Linked DNA regions of Homo sapiens: region 1 is linked to region 2. Evidence: fine-mapped expression QTL. A gene starts in region 2. The other region holds a variant in brackets. All regions are shown on one strand. Distances are between the middles of the regions. Region 1 has its middle 27 kb from the start of RUFY4. Region 2 holds the start of CXCR1 (C-X-C motif chemokine receptor 1).

Region 1 (5,387 bases), 71 kb after region 2:
GGGAAAAATAGAAACTCTGAGCAGACCAATAATAAGCAGTGAGATTGAATCAGTAATAAAAAATTGCCAACCCAAAAAAGTCCAGGAACAGATGGATTCACAGCTGATTTCTACCAGGCATTCAAAGAAGAATTGGTACCAGTCTTACTGAAACTATTCCAAAAGATAAAGAAAGAAGGAATTCCCCCCCACACCCCAATCACTGTATGAAGCCAGTGTCACCCTAATACCAAAACCAGGAAAGGACATAACAAAAAATGAAAACTATAGACCAATACCCCTGATGACTATAGATACAAAAATCCTCAATAAAATACTAGCTAACCAAATCCAACAGCACATCAAAAATATAATACATCATGATCAAATGGGTTTCATCCCAGGGATGCAGGGATGATTTAACATACACAAGTCAATAAATGTGATACATCACATAGATAGAATTAAAAAGGAAAACCATATGATCATCTCAATAGACACAAAGCATTTAATAAAATCCAGCACCCTCAACAAAATAGGCATAGAAGGGACTTAGCTCAAAGTAATAAAGCCATTATATGACAAACCCACAGCCAACATCATACTGAATGGGGAGAAGTTGAAAACATTCCCCCTGAGAACTGGAATAAGACAAGGATGCCCACGTTCACCACTCCTATTCAACATAGTACTGGAAGTCCCAGCCACAGCAATCAGACAAGAGAAAGAAATAAATGGCATCCAAATTGGAAAAGAGGAAGTCAAACTGTCACTGTTCACTGCTGATATGATCGTATACCTAAAAAACCCTAAAGACTCATCCAGAAAGCTCCTAGATCTGATAAATGAATTCAGTAAAGTCTCAGGTTATGAAATCAATGTACACAAATCAGTAGCACTGCTATCTACCAACAACGACCATGCTGAGAATCAAATCAAGAACTCAATCTCTTTTATGACAGCTGCAAAAAATAAAATAAAATACCTAGGAATACGCTTAACCAGGGAGGTGTAACATCTCTACAAAGAAAACTACAAAACACTGCTGAAAAATCATAGATTACACAAACAATTGGAAACACTCCCCATGCTCATGGATGGAAAAATTAATATTGTGAAAATGACCATACTGCCCAAAGCAATCTACAGATTCAATGCCATTCCCATCAAAATACCATCATCAGTCATCATAGAAATAGAAAAAAAATCCTGAAATTTGTATGGAACCAAAAAAGAGGCCACAAAGCCAAAGCAAAACTAAGCAAAAAGAATAAATCTGAAGACATCACCTGACTACAAATTATACTACAAGGCTACAATTACCAAACAGCATGGTACTAGTATACAAATAGGCATGTAGACTAAGGGAACAGAATAGAGAACCCAGCAATAAAGCCAAATGCAGCTATCTGACCTTTGATAAAACAAACAAAAACATAAATTGAGTAAAGGACATTTCAATAAAAGGTGCTGGGAAACCACATGTAGAAGAATGGAACCGGATCCCCATCTCCCACCATATACAAAAATCAACTCAAGATGGATCAAAGACTTTAAATCTAGGACCTGAAACCATAAACATTCTAGAAGATAACTTTGGAAAAACTCTTCTGGATATTGGCTTAGGCAAAGAATTTATGACTAAGATCCCAAAAGCAAATGCAATGAAAACAAAAATAAATAAATGGGACCTAATTAAACTAAAAGGCTCCTGCATAGCAAAAGAAATAACCAGCAGAGTAAACAGACAGCCCAGAGTGGGAGAAAATATTAGCAAACTGTGTATTCAGACAAAGGACTAGTATCCAGAATCAAGGAACTCAAATCAGCAAAATAAGCATCTGACAAAGGACTAGAATCTAGTATCTAGAATCTACAAGGAACTCAAACAAATCAGCAAGAAGAAACCAAATAATCCTGTCAAAAAGTGGGCAAAGGACATGATTACACATTTCTCAAAATAAGATATACAAACAGCCAACAAACATGAAAAAATGCTCAACATCACTAATCATCAGGGAAATGCAAATGAAAACTGGAATGAGATGCCACCTTACTCCTGCAAGAATGGCCATAATTCAAAAGTCAAAAAAACAATAGATGTTGGCATGGATGTGGTGAAAAGAGACCACTTTTACACTGCTGGTGAGAATGCAAAGTACAACCACTATGGAAAACAGTGTGGGGATTTCTTAAAGAACTAAAAGTGAAACTACCATTTGATCCAGCAATCCCACTACTGGGTATCTATCCAAGGGAAAAGAAGTCATTATGTGAAAAGCACACTTGCACACACATGTTTATAGCAGCACAATTCACAATTGCAAAGATATGGAACCGACCTAAATGCCCATCAACCAATGAGTGGATACAGAAAATGTGGTTTATATACACCTGAAGGGGTGGCCTGCCCCTCCACACCTGTGGGTATATCTCTTCAGGTGGGATGAGAGACTGAGAAAAGAAATAAGACACAGAC[A/G]CAAATTATAGAGAAAGAACAGTGGGCCCAGGGGACCGGCGCTCAGCATACGGAGGACCCACACCAGCACTGGTCTCTGAGTTCCCTCAGTATTTATTAATTACTATTTTCACGATCTCAGCAAGAGGAATGCGGTAGGAGAGCAGGGTGATAGTGGGGAGAAGGTCAGCAAGAAAACATGTGAGCAAATGAATCTGTGTCACAAATAAGGTTAAGGGAAGATACTATGCCTAGATGTGCACATAGGCCAGATTTATGCTTCTCTCCACCCAAACATCTCAGAATAACAGAGCAGCATTGCTGCCAACATGTCTCGCCTCCTGCCACAGGGCAGTTTTTCTCTTATCTCAGAATTGAACAAATGTACAATCGGGTTTTATACTGAGACATTCCGTTTCCAGGGGCAGGCAGGAGACAGAGGCCTTCTTCTTATCTCAACTGCAAGAGGCCTTCCTCTTTTACTAATCCTCCTCAGCACAGACCTTTCGCGGGTGTCGGGCCGGGGGACAGTGTGGTTTTTCCCATCCCATAAGGCCATATTTCAGACTATCACATGGGGAGAAATCTTGGATGATACCCGGCTTTCCAGGGCAGAGGTTCCTGCGGCTTTCTGCAGTGCATTGTGCCCCTGGTTTATCGAAACCGGAGAATGGCGATGACTTTTACCAAGCATACTGCCTGTAAACATTTTGTTAACAAGGCACATCCTACACAGCCTTAGATCCCTTAAACCTTGATTCCATACAACACATGTTTTTATAAGCTCAAGGTTGGGGCAAAGTTACAGATTAACAGCATCTCAGGACAAAACAGTTGTTCAGGGTACAGGTCAAAATGGAGTTTCTTATGTCTTCCTTTTCTACATAGACACAGTAACAGTCTGATCTCTCTTTCTTTTCCCTACATACACCATACAATACTACTCAGCCATAAAAATGAACAAAATAATGTCTTTTGCAGCAACTTGGATAGAGCTGGAAGCCGTTATTCTAAGTAAAGTAACTCAGGAATGGAAAACCAAATATCATATGTTCTCATTTATAAGTGGGGGCTAAGCTATGAGGATGCAAAGGCCTAAGAGTGATATAGCAGATTTTGGTGATGCAGGGAAGAAGGTTGGGAGGGAGGTGAGGGATAAAAGATTACATATTGGGTACAGTGTACACTGCTTGGGTGACAGGTGCATAAAAATCTCTCAGAAATCACCTCTAAAGAACTTATCCATGTAACAGAAAACCACCTGTACCCCAAAACTATTGAAACAAAAAAGAAACACACAAACACACAAAACTTTTAATATGACAAAACAAAGCATGCATATTGTAAAGAATACAAGCAATAAAAAAGCACAAAAGCATATAAAGCACAGCTGGAAAGTCTCTCTTCCGTTCCTCTGTTCACCCATATCTTTTCCTCAGATAACTACTGTCTACAACTTGGTGTGTACATTTTCCTGGAATTCTCTCTATGCAAATACAAACATGTTTTCCTTCCTTCTTTTCTTAATAAAAAAGATATATCTACTATATCATATATATGTATATATCTCACCTCAAGTGATCCTGCCATCTTAGCCTCCTGTATATCTGGGATTACAGGTGTGAGCCACTGGGCCCAGCTGAATTAGTTATTCTTATCTGTTTCCCTTTTGCTTTGGATTGTTATTTTGTTATTTTTTTTTGGCCTCAAGTGATTCTCTTGCCTCTGCCTCTCAAAGTGTTGGGATTACAGGCATGAGCCACTGCGCATGGCAAGAAATAAAATTTTTTTTTTTTTGGAGACAGAGTCTCACTCTGTTGCTCAGCCTGGAGTGCAATCTTGGCTCACTGCAACCTCTGCCTTCCAAATTCAAGCCATTCTCATGCCTCAGCCTCCCGAGTAGATGGGACTACAAGTGTTCACCACCACTCCTGGGTCATTTTTGTAATTTTAGTAGAGACAGGGTTTCACGCCATGTCGGCCAGGCTGGTCTCGAATCCCTGGCCACCCACCTCGGCCTCCCAAAGTGCTGGGACAGGCGTGAACCACCATGCCCAGCCTTGGATTGTTATTTTGTTATTGATTGATTTTGTTACTGATTTGTAGGAGCTCTTTATATAATTATGTTTTGAATATTTGTCAATTATGTTAAGATATTTTCTTCCTGCCTGCTGTATGCTTTTCATCTTTATTTATGGTGGAAAGTTACCGTTCAGGTCTTACTTGATCTCTATATCACTGAATCCCACTAACCCATTCTCCTCTATTCCCCTTGACCTCTCTTGTCTTGTTTATTGCTCTATTTCTTAACTTATTCCTCAAATATTGAGGTTCCTGAGGATTCTACTTTGGTTTTCTTCTCTTTTCACTCTACTGCCCCCTCTTGGTGAGTCCACTGGTTTTCATGGCTTCAGCTGCCATCCGACATGTGCCAGAGTCTCCCATAGCTACTGCTCCCAACAAGTGTCTCCCCTAAGCTCCAAACTCTGACATGCAATTATCTCCTTAAATCTCCCTGAGGGCCTACAGATTTTGCAAATTCAGCATGTAGAAAACTAATCTCATTGTATTTCCTGACACGTCTTTCTCCTGAGTGGTTCCTTGTTCAATCATCTGCCAAACCAGAAATGTACCTGCTCCTTACTCTTCCTCTCCTTAAGAACACTCCTGACTATCTCCTCCTCACCATCTTCACTGAGAGTGTTAGGCAATACTTTATTCTCTCTCACTTCACCTAAGGCAATGGTCATGCAAAGTTGTGGGTTCCAGACTGGGCTGTGTGAGTTAGAATCCATCTACCTAGTCCTGGACTTTGGTCAAGTGATTTAATCTCACTGGGTCTCAGTTTCATTATCTGTGAAGTGGATATAATGAGAGCAGCTCCTACATGGGGTTGTTATGTGGATTAAATGAGTCTATACTGATAAACACTTGGAATGATGCTTCGCTC
Region 2 (5,387 bases):
ACTGTTTTTGCCATTTATGGTAGCAAAATGGCTGCTGACTGCAACAAGACTATATACTTGCTTTTCCACATTCATTGAGCAAACATCTGAACTTTGCTCTGACTGGATCATCTTGGGTCACAGACTCACTCCCTGAGCCTGTTGCTGTGGTTACGAGGACGTCACTGGGGAGAGAGGAGAAACCTCCCTCTACCCCTTTCCTCTACTTTGATCCCAGATCCAAGTGGATTCTTCTGGAGGAATGAGAAGAGATGCTGAAGCTGGCATAAGGCTGATGCAGGGACAAAATAGATGTTCTTACAGCCACATTGTGCTGTTCACATGGTCTGTGCAGAAGTCATCATGTTTAAAACAGAGTGGTAAGAAGATGTCACCCAAAGAGATACTACATTTTGCCAGTTGACTGGCATTCGGGCTGCACCTGTCACAGCTTTCTTTGTGGCATTAGGAGCTCTACATGGAATGGAAAAATGCTTCTCAGCAGGAACATTCTAGGCCATTTTAAGAGGGCACAGTTATAAGTGGGAAGTGAGGTATAGAAGATAGGTTGGGTGGGCTGACTTGCTGGAACATTTTGAAGTGGGTAAAATTTTATTCTAAACTCATCTATATGTGCTTTCTCCCTCCTTCAGTGAAATGCTCGTCCTACTGCGAAGTGAAAGGTTCTTTCCACCCTTGTCCTCCAGATGCAACTTCTCCTGGAGACCCCAGCATTGCTGTTGCCCTCACCACACTCATGCAGCAGGGCTGCTCCCCTTCACTCCTCGGGCTCCAGGAGACCAGCCTCTTCCCTAACCCCTCAGTGATTCCTTGAAATAGACTGGAATAGTGAACCGACTTACTGAGGGTTTAGGAAAAGCAGAAGGGAACTATACACCAAGAAGAACTTAACATACGGTGTTAAATATACCTGCTCTTGGCCCTGGTCTTTCTCAAGGGGGTGTCTCACAGGGGATTCCCTGTCTAGCAACTGCTGCCCCCTTGTGGCAAAAACTATCCTTCTCCCGGCCTCAGGGTCTTTCTTGAGTATAGGCAGGTGTTTTGCAGTCTAGGCCCCCGTCTTTTTTCTCCTGTGTCCCCAGTGACTATTTTCTGCCCTTGGGGCTGATTTTCCCTAGATGATTAATAGAGGGAGTCTCCCACCTCCTGGGACTACCCCATCTTTGACTCCTTTCTAGTCTAGGCGTTAGAGCACAATAGTCCAACATCAGTAAAAGCAAAGCATGAGTGGCTATTGTCCCCTTACACTTCCTGTTACCATCTATGAATGATAAAAGAGCCCAGGAGGAAAGCACAACTTAGCTTAAAAAATAGGCTTGCCGGCTGGGCATGGTGGCTTATGCCTGTAATCCCAGTGCTTTGGGAGGCAAAGGCAGGAGGATCACTAGAGGCTAGGAGTTCAAGATAAGCCTGGGCAGTATATCAGGACCCTTTCTCTACAAATAAATAAATAACTAAATAAAAAATAAAAATAAAAATATAATATAAAAAAAGAAAGCCAGATGTAGTGGCTCTTGCCTGTAGTCCCAGCTATTCAGGAGGTTGAGGTGGGAGGATTGCTTGAGCCCAGGCATTTGAGGTTACACTGAGCTATGATCACACCACTGCATTCTAGCCTTGGCAACACAGTGAGAGCCTGTCTCTTAAAAAAAGAAAAAAATTCTTTCCAGTGCAGAACTGTAGGAATCCATGGCATGGTAAATTTGGCATTTGTGGTAGGGCAGGATTTATACTTGCACAGACTGGCATTAGCTCCAAACATTAGAGGAAGGTTGGAAAGAAGCAATGCCAGGCAGACCAACTGGGCTGTGTGGAAGTGAAGCTATCAGGCATACCAGTGACTTTAGTGTGTAGCCAAAAGCAATAGACACTGAATCGTGGTGGTGACTTATGGTCCATGAATCACAGGAGAAATGTCTCCCTTCATTTATTCCACAACCATTGATTGAGCACCTACTATATTCCCTGAAAGAGAACATAAACATGAATTGAAGAAGGTTCTTGCTGTCTCATGGCTCCCAAGCTAGAAGAGGGCTGACTTGTAAATGCCTCACAGCAGGGTTCATGTTATATGGAGAAGTGACGAAGGTGCCAGAAGACTCAAGCTAGGGGACAGCCATTAGCTGCTGGAGGCAGCTAAGGTGGGTTCCCAGAGAAGCCATTCTCCGTTACTGAGATGGGGGCTGCAGTGACCTTGACCACAGCTCTTCCATTCATGGACTGCCCCAGCTCTGTGGTCTCTCTGCTAACCAGCCAGACTCTGGGAGTGGCCTATGCCGTCAGCCTCAGGGCCATTTAAACCAACTGGTCATTGGCAGTGATTGTGCGAAAGAGTGGCTGGCGGCAAAGGAGGGTTTGTGTTCCATTCAAATACCCTCAAAAAGCCTGAAAAATAAGTAGAGATTGAGGCCAGGCCTTGGAGTTGTGGAAGGTGGAGAACACTGGGAAGCCAACCTCCAAAGAAGACCAGGTTGGAGGCAAAGGAGGAAGGGGAGCTCTCGTTGGCAAACCAACAGGGAAGCCAAGGATATCCCAGTAACTGCTCTCACATCCTTGATGAGAATGCCTTGAATCCGAGCTAGGCCACCTCAAAGAAGCCTGCAAAATAAGTAGAGATTGAGTGCCTGCTGTTCAAACACAACTCAAGCGCAGTCCTCCTCCTCTTTCCCACTGGATTGCCCCCAAGTCCCTCCTATGGGGGACTCCTTCTGAAGTCTCTGCTGTAAGTCAAATCCTTCGCCCTTTATACTTGGTCAGGAAGTTGCAAGCTTCCACAGGTGATATACTAGGGAATTTAGGAATAAACAAATGGAAATAAATTCAAGAAAAGGAAAATAATAAAAATGATCATCCATAGAGTGGAGAATTCAGATAATGGACCCTCAACCCCAGCTTCACACCTGGGACCCCCACTTGGTCATATGGACCCTGGCAGTCTCTAATCACAAGTCTGTGATCCCTTGACTTAAACTGTTCTTCCCCAAATGTAGACATGGGTGGGGCTCAGAAGGGAGGTGTCATCTGATGTGGTTTCCTTATTTCCGTTTATTCATCAAGTGCCCTCTAGCTGTTAAGTCACTCTGATCTCTGACTGCAGCTCCTACTGTTGGACACACCTGGCCGGTGCTTCAGGTAGGAAGCCACCTCTGTTTGCTAGGACTTTCTGTGGGGTAGGGCTGCTTGGCTTGACTTTATTTTGGAAAATGTATTCATTTCTGTGGGAGCTGAGGATTTCTGCTGCCCGCTTCCTCTCTTGTGACCACCACTCATACATGGAGTTAGCAGGTGAAGAGGACAGCCTCCTCATCCCCTCTTTTTATACCTTGCCCTTTTGTGGGAAGAGGCTGACCATTCCCCAATTTGATGTTTATTGCTTCACCTTAAGACTTTGTCTTCAGTGAAAATGCAAATACTGGTAGGGAGGGAACACACTAAAATGTGTGGATCTGAGTGGACTCATCATACACCCTCAGGCCTGGCAGCAAATGAGAGGTGGATGATTCTGTCTTCCTCGATTTGCAGATGAGAAGACTGAAATCTATAGGGGTACGAGACCCCACTCAAGGTCATGAGACTTATTTATTTATTTATTTATTTATTTTGAGATGGAGTCTCACTCTGTCGCCTAGGCTGTAGTACTGTGGCACGATCTCGGCTCACTGCAACCTCCATTTCCCGGGTTCAAGTGATTCTCCTGCCTCAGCCTCCTGAGTAGTTGGGATTACAGGTGCACGCCACCACACCCAGCTAATTTTTTTGTATTTTTAGTAGAGACGGGGTTTCATCATTTTGGTCAGGCTGGTCTCGAACTCCTGACTTCATGATCTGCCTGCCTTGGCCTCCCAAAGGGCTGGGATTACACACGAAACTTATTAATGGTAGAATCAGGATGGAATGAAGACTGGATGCTAGGTGTCTTTACAACCAACCTCGGTGACTTTCCAAAGGCTTTCAGACTTCTCTGGAGAGTCCTGGAGCTTTGAGGGGCTCTTTAGGGGCCATCTGGGTTCGGAGATTAGCACACTCTGCCCCACAGTGGCTCAGCTTTTATCTGCTTCACATACTGGGCTTCTGGGAAGATCTTATTTCAGTAAACTATTTCACAATAGGAAATATATTTGAAAACTCTTGAATGATTCTGTGGATTTTTTCAGGGGTGGAGGGTTTCAGGGACCAAGATGGAGACTTTATCTTCTCAAATACTTAAAACTCCTTTAGACAGAGGAACAAAATATGTGCTCCTCATTTAAAGAAGGCTTAAAATATACAGTTTAATGCAATGTGTTGTTATCACTTCCTTCCCCCAGTAGATTTTAAGGAGGGTAAACAAGAATCAGGGAGAACATAGGAATAGAAATAGTAGAAGGGGACACCTGGGAACAGGTTTGCCTTCTTGCATTTTGCTTAATGCTGGCCCTTCCCTGAATGTCTAAGACCAACCTGGTCCCCACATCCAAATGCACAGACACAGCTGAGGATGGAGAAGGCTAAAGAGGGACAGAGGTAGAGACATAGGCTGAGAGGAGGCAGTTGTAGGTTGAGCTAGGGCTAAGGTGTTTTCCCCATATTCCATCTTACCCCACACTCAGGCCAGGCCTTAGAGTTGTGGAAGGTGGAGAACACTGGGAAGCCAACCTCCGAAGAAGACCAGGTTGGAGTCAAAGGAGGAAGGAGAGCTCTCATTGCCAAACCAACAGGGAAGCCAAGGATATCCCAGTAACTGCTCTCACATCATTGATGAGAATGCCTTGAATCCGAGCTACTAAATCACATTTCCTTCCTTCTAACCTTCCAGTTAGATCAAACCATTGCTGAAACTGAAGAGGACATGTCAAATATTACAGATCCACAGATGTGGGATTTTGATGATCTAAATTTCACTGGCATGCCACCTGCAGATGAAGATTACAGCCCCTGTATGCTAGAAACTGAGACACTCAACAAGTATGTTGTGATCATCGCCTATGCCCTAGTGTTCCTGCTGAGCCTGCTGGGAAACTCCCTGGTGATGCTGGTCATCTTATACAGCAGGGTCGGCCGCTCCGTCACTGATGTCTACCTGCTGAACCTGGCCTTGGCCGACCTACTCTTTGCCCTGACCTTGCCCATCTGGGCCGCCTCCAAGGTGAATGGCTGGATTTTTGGCACATTCCTGTGCAAGGTGGTCTCACTCCTGAAGGAAGTCAACTTCTACAGTGGCATCCTGCTGTTGGCCTGCATCAGTGTGGACCGTTACCTGGCCATTGTCCATGCCACACGCACACTGACCCAGAAGCGTCACTTGGTCAAGTTTGTTTGTCTTGGCTGCTGGGGACTGTCTATGAATCTGTCCCTGCCCTTCTTCCTTTTCCGCCAGGCTTACCATCCAAACAATTCCAGTCCAGTTT

Evidence for each region. PIP is the estimated chance that this variant, and not a neighbour inherited with it, causes the effect. A credible set is the group of variants that fine-mapping cannot tell apart.
Region 1: its variant is the best candidate, but not a certain one, in a credible set for the expression of CXCR1 in whole blood (TOPMed, PIP 0.68).

What each region holds. Positions count from the first base shown.
Region 1 is chr2:218,093,516-218,098,902 of GRCh38, reverse strand. No RefSeq gene overlaps it. Among named protein-coding and RNA genes, the nearest start is that of RUFY4, 27 kb to the right of the region's middle. The variant A/G (reference allele first, on the strand shown) is at 2,459.
Region 2 is chr2:218,164,653-218,170,039 of GRCh38, reverse strand. It overlaps CXCR1 (C-X-C motif chemokine receptor 1), which reads left to right and starts at 3,078. Exons shown (of 2, transcript NM_000634.3): 1 at 3,078-3,132; 2 at 4,796-5,387. The coding sequence starts at 4,829.